Regions from separate parts of the Homo sapiens genome. Here all the other regions are reported to be linked to region 2. The links are microRNA targets in miRTarBase. Many come from high-throughput screens and were not tested one by one. Region 2 holds a microRNA gene; each other region holds the end of a gene's coding sequence.
The links. The annotated mature microRNA hsa-miR-3675-5p reads UAUGGGGCUUCUGUAGAGAUUUC and lies in region 2 at 1,885-1,907, shown strand. An mRNA with a match to its seed (bases 2 to 7 or 8) in the 3' UTR can be bound and repressed. Matches are read on the target gene's strand: a 7mer-m8 pairs with bases 2 to 8, a 7mer-A1 pairs with bases 2 to 7 and ends in A, and an 8mer does both.

Region 1 (3,309 bases), not on the chromosome of region 2:
GCTGCTGGGTGGGTGGGTGTGGTGGACGTGGTGATATGCCACTCAGGATCCCTTCAGGAAGGATGGACAGCTTTCCAGCTGCTGCAGGTCCTGGCAGCAAACAGTCTTCAGGGCAAATGTTTTTGTGTTGTCTCAGCTGAAGACCACTGCCTTGCCTGAGGTCACACCCTCTTTCTGGGTGGCCCACATCTAATGACTGGTCAATGAGGGAGTGGAAAGACCTGGCTCTTCACCCCAATTTGGGTCAACTCTGGCTCCCCTGTGGGTTGGCCCAGCCTGTCATTCAGGACTGCATTGCAGCCTGACCTCTCCCTCTGCCCAGATCTGCCTCCCTCTCCATGCTTTTACAAACGTTATCCCAACAGCAGCCCCTCATATCCATCTCACAGGCTAATCTCTGTTTCTGGGGTTCGCAACCCATGCAGCATGTGTGTGTGCATACGTGCACAGCTGTGTCTTACAAGTAGGTGCACACGTGGATATGGGATGTGCATAACCTGCCTCCCCAGGGCCCTCCATCCAAGTGACCTAGAGGCCAGGCCAGTCCCTGTGCTGGCCCAGGCAGGCTCCTGGGGGCTCAGGTCTGAGAGGATATTGGAGATTTGGTGCTGAGCTGGGGCCTGAGGCAGGCAGAGATGCCTTCCTCTCCACATGGTCCAGGAGCGGCTCCTGGGATGGAAGAGATGGTGAAGGAGCAGGCAGCAGGGGCGTGGACTCCTTGGCCCCCTCACACCCTGTATCCACCCTTGGTAGCTCCAGGCAGCTCCATGGAGCCTCAGTCACCTTGGCTCACATCCCTTCCTCCCTGTCCTCCAAGGCTCTTGAGCCTAGAAGGGCTTTTTTTCCAGGCACGGATCTTGCTTTGGCTTGCCTAGAGCAAGCCAAATGCAGGCCATCACTCTACAGCCAGACTACTCCAAGCAGAGGAATCCTGGGATGGTGCAGACACTCTGGCCACCACTCCTCCTAAGGCCCATACGTGGGCTTGTCCTCTCCGCAGGCTGCCAGGGGTCAGAGCAGCAGACATAGCAACAGGTCAGTCTTGGAGAAGAATGGGATTCAGGCAAAGGCGGGGCAGGTAGCACAGCAAGATACCTAGAGGGCACCAGGTGTTACAGAAACATTTATTACAAGGATAAATCAGTACAATAATGGGACCTTAAAACTGCTGTGATGCAGGAGTGGAGGGCTGGGCAGTGCCCGAGGCAGGGGAGGACAGTGGGACAAGGGATGCTCAGTGGTGGAGCCACAGCCCTGGGCTCTGGATGGGGCATGGGAATGACCAGGTTCCCACATCATGCACAGCAGGGGCCTGTAGCTTGAGTCCAGACAGGCCTGCCCACATTGGTGCTGCCCCCCGCCTACCTGGAGATGTCTCTAAAATTCTGGATGTGCCCTAGTGGCTGAGGGTGTTGAGACTGGCACTGAGCAGAGATATCAGTGAAGATGCCCCAGGGGTAACCAGGTACCCACCACTGACCCCCTAGCATTCAGAGATGGGAAAACATCATTGGTCTTTGAGAGACAGGTGTGACGTTCCTCCTTGAGTTGGCAGAACCCTTAGGAATGGCTGTAGTTTGGCTCCAGCCCAGATGTTCCAGGCAGAATCCAAACAGCCTGGAAGCTTCCCATGGAAGGTTCCTGCCACATCCCTGCCTACAAATACAAAGAGTTATGTGACCAAATCCCTTAGATGAATTCTATTCATCCTAGGACTTGCTCAAGGGATACCTCCTCCAGGAAGCCTTCCTAAGCACCGCTGACTACTCAGCAGGCCATTCCTTCCCTGAGTCCCTTCCCTCATCTATACTCACTACTCCCTAGGGTCTCTCCTTGCTGCGTTTTCTGTAGGGCTGGACCTAGGGCCGTGCGCTCAGTGGCTGGTGAGCTGAGGGCACTCTCTGGGTCTAGTCTACTTGTGATGGCACCAGCTCACGGACCCCCAGGCAAAGCCCAGAAAAGGATGATAGGGGCGGGGAGTGGGGGGAGAGTAGGAAGAGTCATGTAGTACAGCAATATTTCAGGACCCTCTATTCTCTGTCATTGCAACTGCCTTTTGCACCCGCATGAAGAAGCTCCAAGAACCTGCCCTTGGTTCAGAGTTTACATACCGAGGCTCCTCTTCCCTATCTAGAATCTACAGTGCCTCACAAGCCCATGCAGAGATAAGCACCCTCTAGAATCAGAGACAGCAAGAGGCCCCCTTGCCTCCACGTATTTCCTTCTTGGCCTGCTGAGGTCTGGGCATGATGGGGCCAGACAGTGGAGTTGGGGGAAGCTCAGGCTGTCCCCAGGTGAAGATCCCTGTGGGCTGAAAGGATTGGGACGGGTCCCCTTGTGCTCTGGGCACCCCCTTTTCTCCCTGTAACCTCCTGCTCTTTCTCTGTGGGGAGGTTGGCAGGGTAGGTGGTGGGCTGGCTGTAGGGCAGGAGATCCTCTAGGGAATGGGCAGAATGGATGGAGCTAGGCCCTGCTGGGATGGCCTGGTGGGCAGCCCTGCCTTCTGTTTCCCGTCTGTAGCCTGGGTTAGAGAGTGGCGCCCCGGGCCCTGCTCTGGGGCTGGGAGCAGCGGGCAAGCAGAAGTGAAGGCTGAGCTCTGCAGGCTGTGGAATGGGGGTCTCCCCCTCAGCAAGCCACTCTCACGGGATCATCTTCAGGGGCCGGGCCTTTCCATAGGGTCTGCAACTCCAAGCCCCACTGCTTCCTCAGGTGGGCAGGGGAGTCAGGATGCAGGCCCTACTGGCTACTAGCCATGACCGTTCTGGGACATGTAAGCTGCCAGAGCCACCACCACAGCCACGTAGAGACCGGCCCCCACGGCGATGGCGAGTGTGGCTAGGAAGAGGGCCCGGCGGGAGGTGGTGCTGGCCAGGCGGAAGTCCCCTTTGGAGATGGCCTTGCTGGTCTAGGGAGAGAGACATGCTGATGAACAGGAGTGTCCCCACACCCAGCCAAACAGCCCAGCCTGCCAGGCCCCTGACCCCATCCTGCAGACGGGATGCCAAGCCCTCCAGTAGAGTGACGGGCCAGAGAAGGGACCTGGGCCCCAGGTGCTCTTACCCCCTGGGAGAAGTAGAAGGCAGCAATGCCCAGTGGCCAGAAGCAGCAGAGCATGGAGAAGAGAGTAAGTCCCAGGTGGTCCCTGGGAGGCAGCGTGAGGAAGTTGTCTTCACTTTCACTCTCCGTTGAAGTGGCATCGCTCTGCAAAACAGTGGAGTTTGGTGACCAGGCCCAGGATCAGCCCAGCCCCATCAGGCTGGCAAGAGGTTTTTTAAAAGGCAATGCCCAGTGGCCAGTGACATGGAGCAA
Region 2 (3,349 bases):
GCCAACAAACCTTAACATATGATCTATATCCACCAGAGCTATATTTATTCCCAAATCTCCTTCTAAAATACAAACCTGTACTTTCTACTCTTAACTTCTAAATTTACAAAGGCCTCATATGCATCTCAGAGTCACAGATGCTAAAACTTAACCGGTTTTCTGAGGATTATTTGGGGAAGGGGTATGCATGCAAATGTATACACATAATTCATGTGATTTAGGAATATTGACTCTATGACTTCCAGATGCAGATTTAGAACCTTTTTAAAAAATATTTTGTTTTTGTTGTCTTGCAAATCAGCCAGATCTGCAACTTACCAGAGTAAAGCGAAGCCAAGCGGGACCCTTAGGAAATGCACTAAGATGTCATCCACTTTCAGTGTCAGCCTGTGAAAATACAGGCGATAGAAGAGAATGAAGAGAACCTGAAGGAATTTCTGGAACCAAAGCTAATATTAAGCAGGCCTCTTGCTGGCAGACCAGTGGAAACTGTAGCCTGGTCAACGATCTGTCTAGATTGAGGAGGTCTAAAGTGTAGCCACAGGTTCAACTACTTTTCTGTTTGTTTCCCAACCTCGATTAAACTCACTAAATTTAGGGACAAAAAAACAAAACAAAACACGATGTTCCCACGCAGTCTCGAACCAGAGACCTTTCATATGTGAAGCGAACATAATAACCACTACACCACAGAAACTGCATATACACCAAAAAAGGCAAAATATCATCATGAAAATCTTAGGTCAGCCATTTCTATTATCGTTTCCAAAGTAAGAAATTCAACTGCATTTCGAAATTCGACTGAAAAAAGCCCAATAAGCACCAGCCATCAAGAAGACTATGGCTCCCAATAGGCCCAGGCTTAGCGTTCCGCGCCCACCCCCAACACGAAAACCATGGGGACCCACACCCGGGCTTCGGGGACACATACCCGGGCTTCGGGCTCCCGCATCCTCCCCTGGGTATGCAGTTCCAGAACTAAGCGCCGTGTGCGGGATCCTCCCGGCTGACACTCTTCGGCTCCCAGAAGCTGCAGGAGCCGGCGGGCTTTGAGCGTCCGAGCCCTGGGCGCCCCGTGCCTCTCAGGAGGGTGGACGCCGCCCTTCCAGGGATGCGGACCCCGCCTCGGGGCCTTTTCCCCGGCGCCGGCCGTCGGGGCTCTTGGCTCTTCTCGTCCTCCCAGGAACCGTAGGACTCTCCTTGCCCTCCCTCCCGTAGGCCGAGGGGCGCGAGCTGCGCCTGTTTCCTCACGGACCCTTTGGCCTCAGCGCCTCGACGTCTTGCAATTGTTAGCTCACGGCTCTTCCTCCTATAACAAGGCCCTTCCATGTCATGTCCCCTACTCCCTCTTAGCACCAGAGAGATGCCGCCCCTGCCCCACAGGTCACATTCCATGAGTGGTGAAGTTTCTAGAGTTGTAACCATGGCATCTCCAGCCCTGTGTGTTCCTCTCCATGCTCCCCATTGAGCAGTCTTGATCCTGTATTAGCCCCAGGAAATGAAATAGAAACAGGACCCTACGTTAAAAAGTTGCAGTGGAGATGTGGTGGCCACCAGGGGCTGGAACTGTGGGGTGACTGAGAGTATCCAAAGCCCTGTGGCCAACCTACTGGTGCTGAGTGTGCTGGTGAGCCTCTCTGTCAGCTGGCTTCCCCGGGCCAGTTGCTCCCGGAAGCTCTGTCCCAGGTAGTAGTCAATGTCATTGCTCCTTAAGAGATCCTCAAAAGATTTTACTGTATCTTTTGCATGCTGGGTGAGAAGATAACAAACACCTCTCCCTTCTCGTATTTTTTGCCGTAGGTAAGACAGTTCCCGGGGCTGATCCTGAATCAGGGAATCATATTTCCTAATGCAGGACAGAAGAGGAAAGGGTGGATGATAAGTTATGGGGCTTCTGTAGAGATTTCTATGAGAACATCTCTAAGGAACTCCCCCAAACTGAATTCTGGCACGTAAGCCATAGGAGGTATTTAAGAGTAAATTCTACCCTGATAAATTATTGCACTAAAAATTTAGTATGGGCCGGGCGTGGTGACTGACGCCTGTAATCCCAGCACTTTGGGAGGCTGAGGCAGGCAGATCACAAGGTCAGAAGTTCGAGACCAGCCTGGCCAATATGGTGAAACCCCCTCCTCTACTAAAAACACACAAAAAAACTAGCTGGGCATGGTGGCACATGCCTGTAATCCCAGCTACTTGGGAGGCTGAGGGAGGAGAATTGCTTGAACCTGGGAGGGAGAGGTTGCAGTGAGCCGAGATGGCACCACTGCACTCCAGCCTGGGTGACAGAGTGAGACTCTGTATCAAAACAAAACAAAACAAAAAATTTACCATGCCACTGTTCTTCAACTGTTCTATATATGTTAATTATATGTCCCTAGATAAATCGTAAGGTCTGTGAGAATGAAGATAGTTCTGCGTTTCACATCCCTTACAGCACCAGCATCACAGAGATTCACAGCAGATACTCAATGAATAATTAGACTCATCTCATCCTAAGTCTAGATAGGACCTTTCATGTCTTCTGTTTTAACCACCACCTGATGTCTGAATTTCTTCTGTGTTGTGATACTGTGGCTGACTGTATTTTGCAATCATGGCCATCACATAAACTCTCATGCCATCAACTGATGAGACCCAAAACAAGAGACCCTAAGTGAGAGCCACCCAGCTGAGCCCAGTCAAACCACAGAACCATGAAGCATAATAAAGTACTGTTTGAAGTCACTAAGTTTTAGAGTGGTTCTTACTTAGCAGTAGATAACCAGGACGCATACCAAGATGAATGTCTGTGTTTTCAACACAAAGTGTCAATAACACTGATAACTATGGCAAATAGCATTGAGAGCTTAATGTATGCTGGGCACCATTCTAAGCACTTGTACTAATTTTTTTTTTTTTTTGAGACAGAGTCTTGCTCTGTCACCCAGGCTGGGGTGCAGTGGTACCATCTCGGCTCACTGCATCCTCCACTTCCCAGGTTCAAGCGATTCTCCTGCCTCAGCCTCCTGAGTAGCTGGGATTACAGGGGTGCACCACCATGCCCACCTAATTTTTATATTTTTAGTAGAGACAGGGTTTCACCATGTTGGGTAGCCTGGTCTCGAACTCCTGACCTCGGGTGTTCTGCCCACCTCAGCCTCCCAAAATGTTGGGATTACAGGCATGAGCCACCACACCTGGCCAGCACTTGTATTAATTCATTTAAACCTAATATCCACCCTTTGAGATGGGTTCTGTTATCATCCTCATTTAATAGGTAATGACAAAGGCTCAGAAAGGTTAAGAAGGTTGCATGGGTAGTAAGCATCAGAGCTAGGCAGTCTGATTCCAGTATTACCACTATACT
Region 3 (3,000 bases), not on the chromosome of region 2:
ATTGCACCCGGCCAATGTGAATCCAGTTTTTAAAAGCCAGATTCTGTATTGCCTGAGAGTAAGTTATCTAGATTGGATTCTCTACAATTGAGAATTTGAAGATAAAATAAAGTGAAAGTTCCTTTAACTTAAGCATTGTTTTGCTCTTACAACATGTAAGGCTGAAACAAGTGCCCATGGGTTTGAAATGAAGCTGTCCTGACCTAGCGTTATTCTCAATGCTAGATGGTGTGTTGAGACCTGTCCCACAGAAGGAAGAGCAGCACCAGGACAAGAAGCTGCGCCTCGGAATCCACTAAGAAGGCCTGTCTACACTGCAGGGGAACCTCAAGAACTTTTCATTGCACTTCTAAAATTCAGCCTTGTTCATTCAGAAAATAAGGATGGATTTTGTGAATAATTGAAAAGATTTTTTAAGGAAGCTAATTTATTTCTAGGATACAAATGGTGTTAATAAGAATATTTGTCTTTTAGATTTATGTGTGGGTTTTCCATAATGTAGTAGTGTGTTATTTTATTACACGAAATGAGGGAGCAATAACTTCAACCAATGTAATCACCAACAGGGACTGATTTCTATTTATCTTGACTTTATATTAGCCAATTTGAAAGGGTCTGCTTCACAAGAGGTCATGCCTCTGCAGGGAATCACACACCTTTTGAGAAATATTAATTCTTTTGAATTACAAGAGTGACAGTTAGTAAACTGCTCCAGGGAAATAAGTGTCATCTTTTAAGAGTCAGTGTATAGCAAACCAAAAGATCACATTTATACCCAAAGCTTTCTAGTAATCAGAATTTACTTAATTAGAATTGACTCATAAAAATAAAGTTAGTGGACTTTGTCTCCATTTTTAAAGTATATTTTGTAAATGTTAATTCTGTGGTCCTGTTTATCACAGACTTTGGGTAGCAATAGGAAGAGAGTGTTATTCTGAGACAGTGTCGCTGCTTGATATCACTGACTCTTGAAATCACTAACAGTGAACCTCAAATTTGGTTATGATGTTAACAGAGAAGAAATATTTGAGTCTGGAATATTGAAACTAGCTTTCCTAGAATTCCATTAATAAATGCTGCTCCCCCATATAGTCTTCCCTTCTGTATAATTAACATAGGTTGTCTCATGGCTTTGATCTTCAAAAGGAAGAGCCTTTTAAAAACATTTGCCAACCTCAAGAATAAATACTGAAAGTCTTGAAAGTATGGTCATTTCAGCTATTCCAGATTGCTGTCTGTGATTTCTCACATTTTTATTTGCTGAGAAACATTCAGAAAATTATTCCAAAAATGAAGGTACATTTTCTGTTCTCTCCTAGGTTAGAGAGGGGTGGCCTGGGGTGCTTCATGAGAAATGTCTTCCTGGATCTGCGGTGGTCAGGTTTGCCTCTGCTTTTGTTCCCTGCCTTTCCGCCACATCACACGGCCTCACTGGGCTTCCTACCAGTTTCTCAGAATTACACGCACGACCATCCAAACATTGGCTCCATGCCAGGGCTGTGACTGCAGCCTGTGTAGGACCATGGGGAGTTCAGAGTCATCATACAAGGCAGCCAAGAACTGCCATAAACACTACACAGATGGAGGGCATGGGATAGGACAGGAGAGGAGGTGATGTACACTTAGAGGTAACTAAGGCTAGTTTGAAAACCGTGAATTAAGATATTCTTATCAGTATAAAAACACTGAGATTGCTTACCTCCCAAATTGCTTTATTGTATTAACTCTCATGCTTCAGCTCTTGGATTTGTTGTTTCTAACTAACATGTCATGTACACCAAACATTTTATAAATCAATCAGTAAATATTTTGTAAGACCCAAAATCCTGGCATATTGCCAGGTCTGTGGATTTGCCTGTTGGGTGTTGGGATGGGATATCAGAGGAAGAAGCATACAAGTGGGAAAAACTGTGATTAGAAAGGGAAAAATAGGCATTTCCACAGTACTATTAAGAGAGGCATGATAATGCCATTTTTTTTCTTCTGTACAACTGGTCAGATTTCAATAAATAATCATTGATGGTTTACTGTGTAGCCTCAGAAGGTGAAGTCTATGAGGGCAGGGAGGTGTGTGTGTGTGTGTGTGTGTACTTTTTAACTGCTGAACCCCAGTGTCTAGAACAGTACCTGGCACACAGTAGGCATTCCATAAATATTTGTTTATTGATTGAATGACTGCTAAACACTGCTAGACTGCGGGGATGAGATGTGTGAGAAATGCCTCCTGATCTTAAGACACTCACAGTCAAGTGGAAGATACAAGCATGGAATCAAGTAATTAAGAAAAATGATTCTCAGGCCAGGTGCCGTGGCTCACACCTGTAATCCCAGCACTTTGGGAGGCTGAGTGGGGTAGATCACTTGAGGTCAGGAGTTCAAGACCAGCCTGGTCAACATGGTAAAACCCCGTCTCTACTAAAAATACAAAAAAAAAAAAAAAAAAAAAAAGCTAGACATGGTATTGCATGCCTGTAATCCCAGCTATTTGGGAGACTGAAGCAGGAGAATCACATGAACCCAGGAGGCAGAGGTTGCAGTGAGCTGAGATCATGCCACTGCACTCCAGCCTGGACAACAGAGCGAGACTTAGTCTAAAAGAAAAGAAAAGAAAAAAATGTCTCTGGACCAGCAGACTATTTGTTAGAAGTGCATATTCTTAGGGTGCTCCCTAGGCTTACTGAATTAGAACCTCTCAGGGTGGGCCCAGCAAGCTGGGGTTTCACGACCTTGCGGGTGATTCTGGTGACCTTTAAGGCTGAGAACTGCCATTGTGGATGTAACTGTAGGAACAGTGGGGGCACACGAGGATTTACCAGCACTCTGGGGAGTCATGGAAAGGACCCTGTAGAGGCAGAGGTGATGAGGTGGGGCCTGAGGGGATCCAGGGGTTTGCCAGGTAAACAGTGGGAATGAGACAAATTTCTGGGAAAAAGTGATGGAGACAGACTGCTGAGCCACCCCAGGAGCCCGCCTGGGTTTGGAGAAGCTCTGTGGGGCACT

Region 1: the mRNA of SYNDIG1L is a reported target of hsa-miR-3675-5p. Seed matches in the 3' UTR shown: 7mer-m8 at 2,250-2,256 and 7mer-m8 at 1,266-1,272.
Region 3: the mRNA of CDADC1 is a reported target of hsa-miR-3675-5p. Seed matches in the 3' UTR shown: 7mer-A1 at 1,083-1,089.

Annotation. Positions count from the first base shown.
Region 1 is chr14:74,404,789-74,408,097 of GRCh38, forward strand. SYNDIG1L (synapse differentiation inducing 1 like) reads right to left here. Exons shown (of 4, transcript NM_001105579.2): 3 at 3,061-3,201; 4 at 1,111-2,905. The coding sequence ends at 2,747. Among named protein-coding and RNA genes, the nearest start is that of SYNDIG1L, 20 kb to the right of the region's middle. RefSeq lists an enhancer at 2,350-2,851.
Region 2 is chr1:16,857,546-16,860,894 of GRCh38, reverse strand. MIR3675 (microRNA 3675) reads left to right here and starts at 1,874; the gene lies at 1,874-1,946. It also overlaps the pseudogene PDE4DIPP9 and the pseudogene TRV-CAC11-2.
Region 3 is chr13:49,291,459-49,294,458 of GRCh38, forward strand. It overlaps CDADC1 (cytidine and dCMP deaminase domain containing 1), which reads left to right. Exons shown (of 10, transcript NM_030911.4): 10 at 226-2,027. The coding sequence ends at 299. Among named protein-coding and RNA genes, the nearest start is that of CDADC1, 45 kb to the left of the region's middle.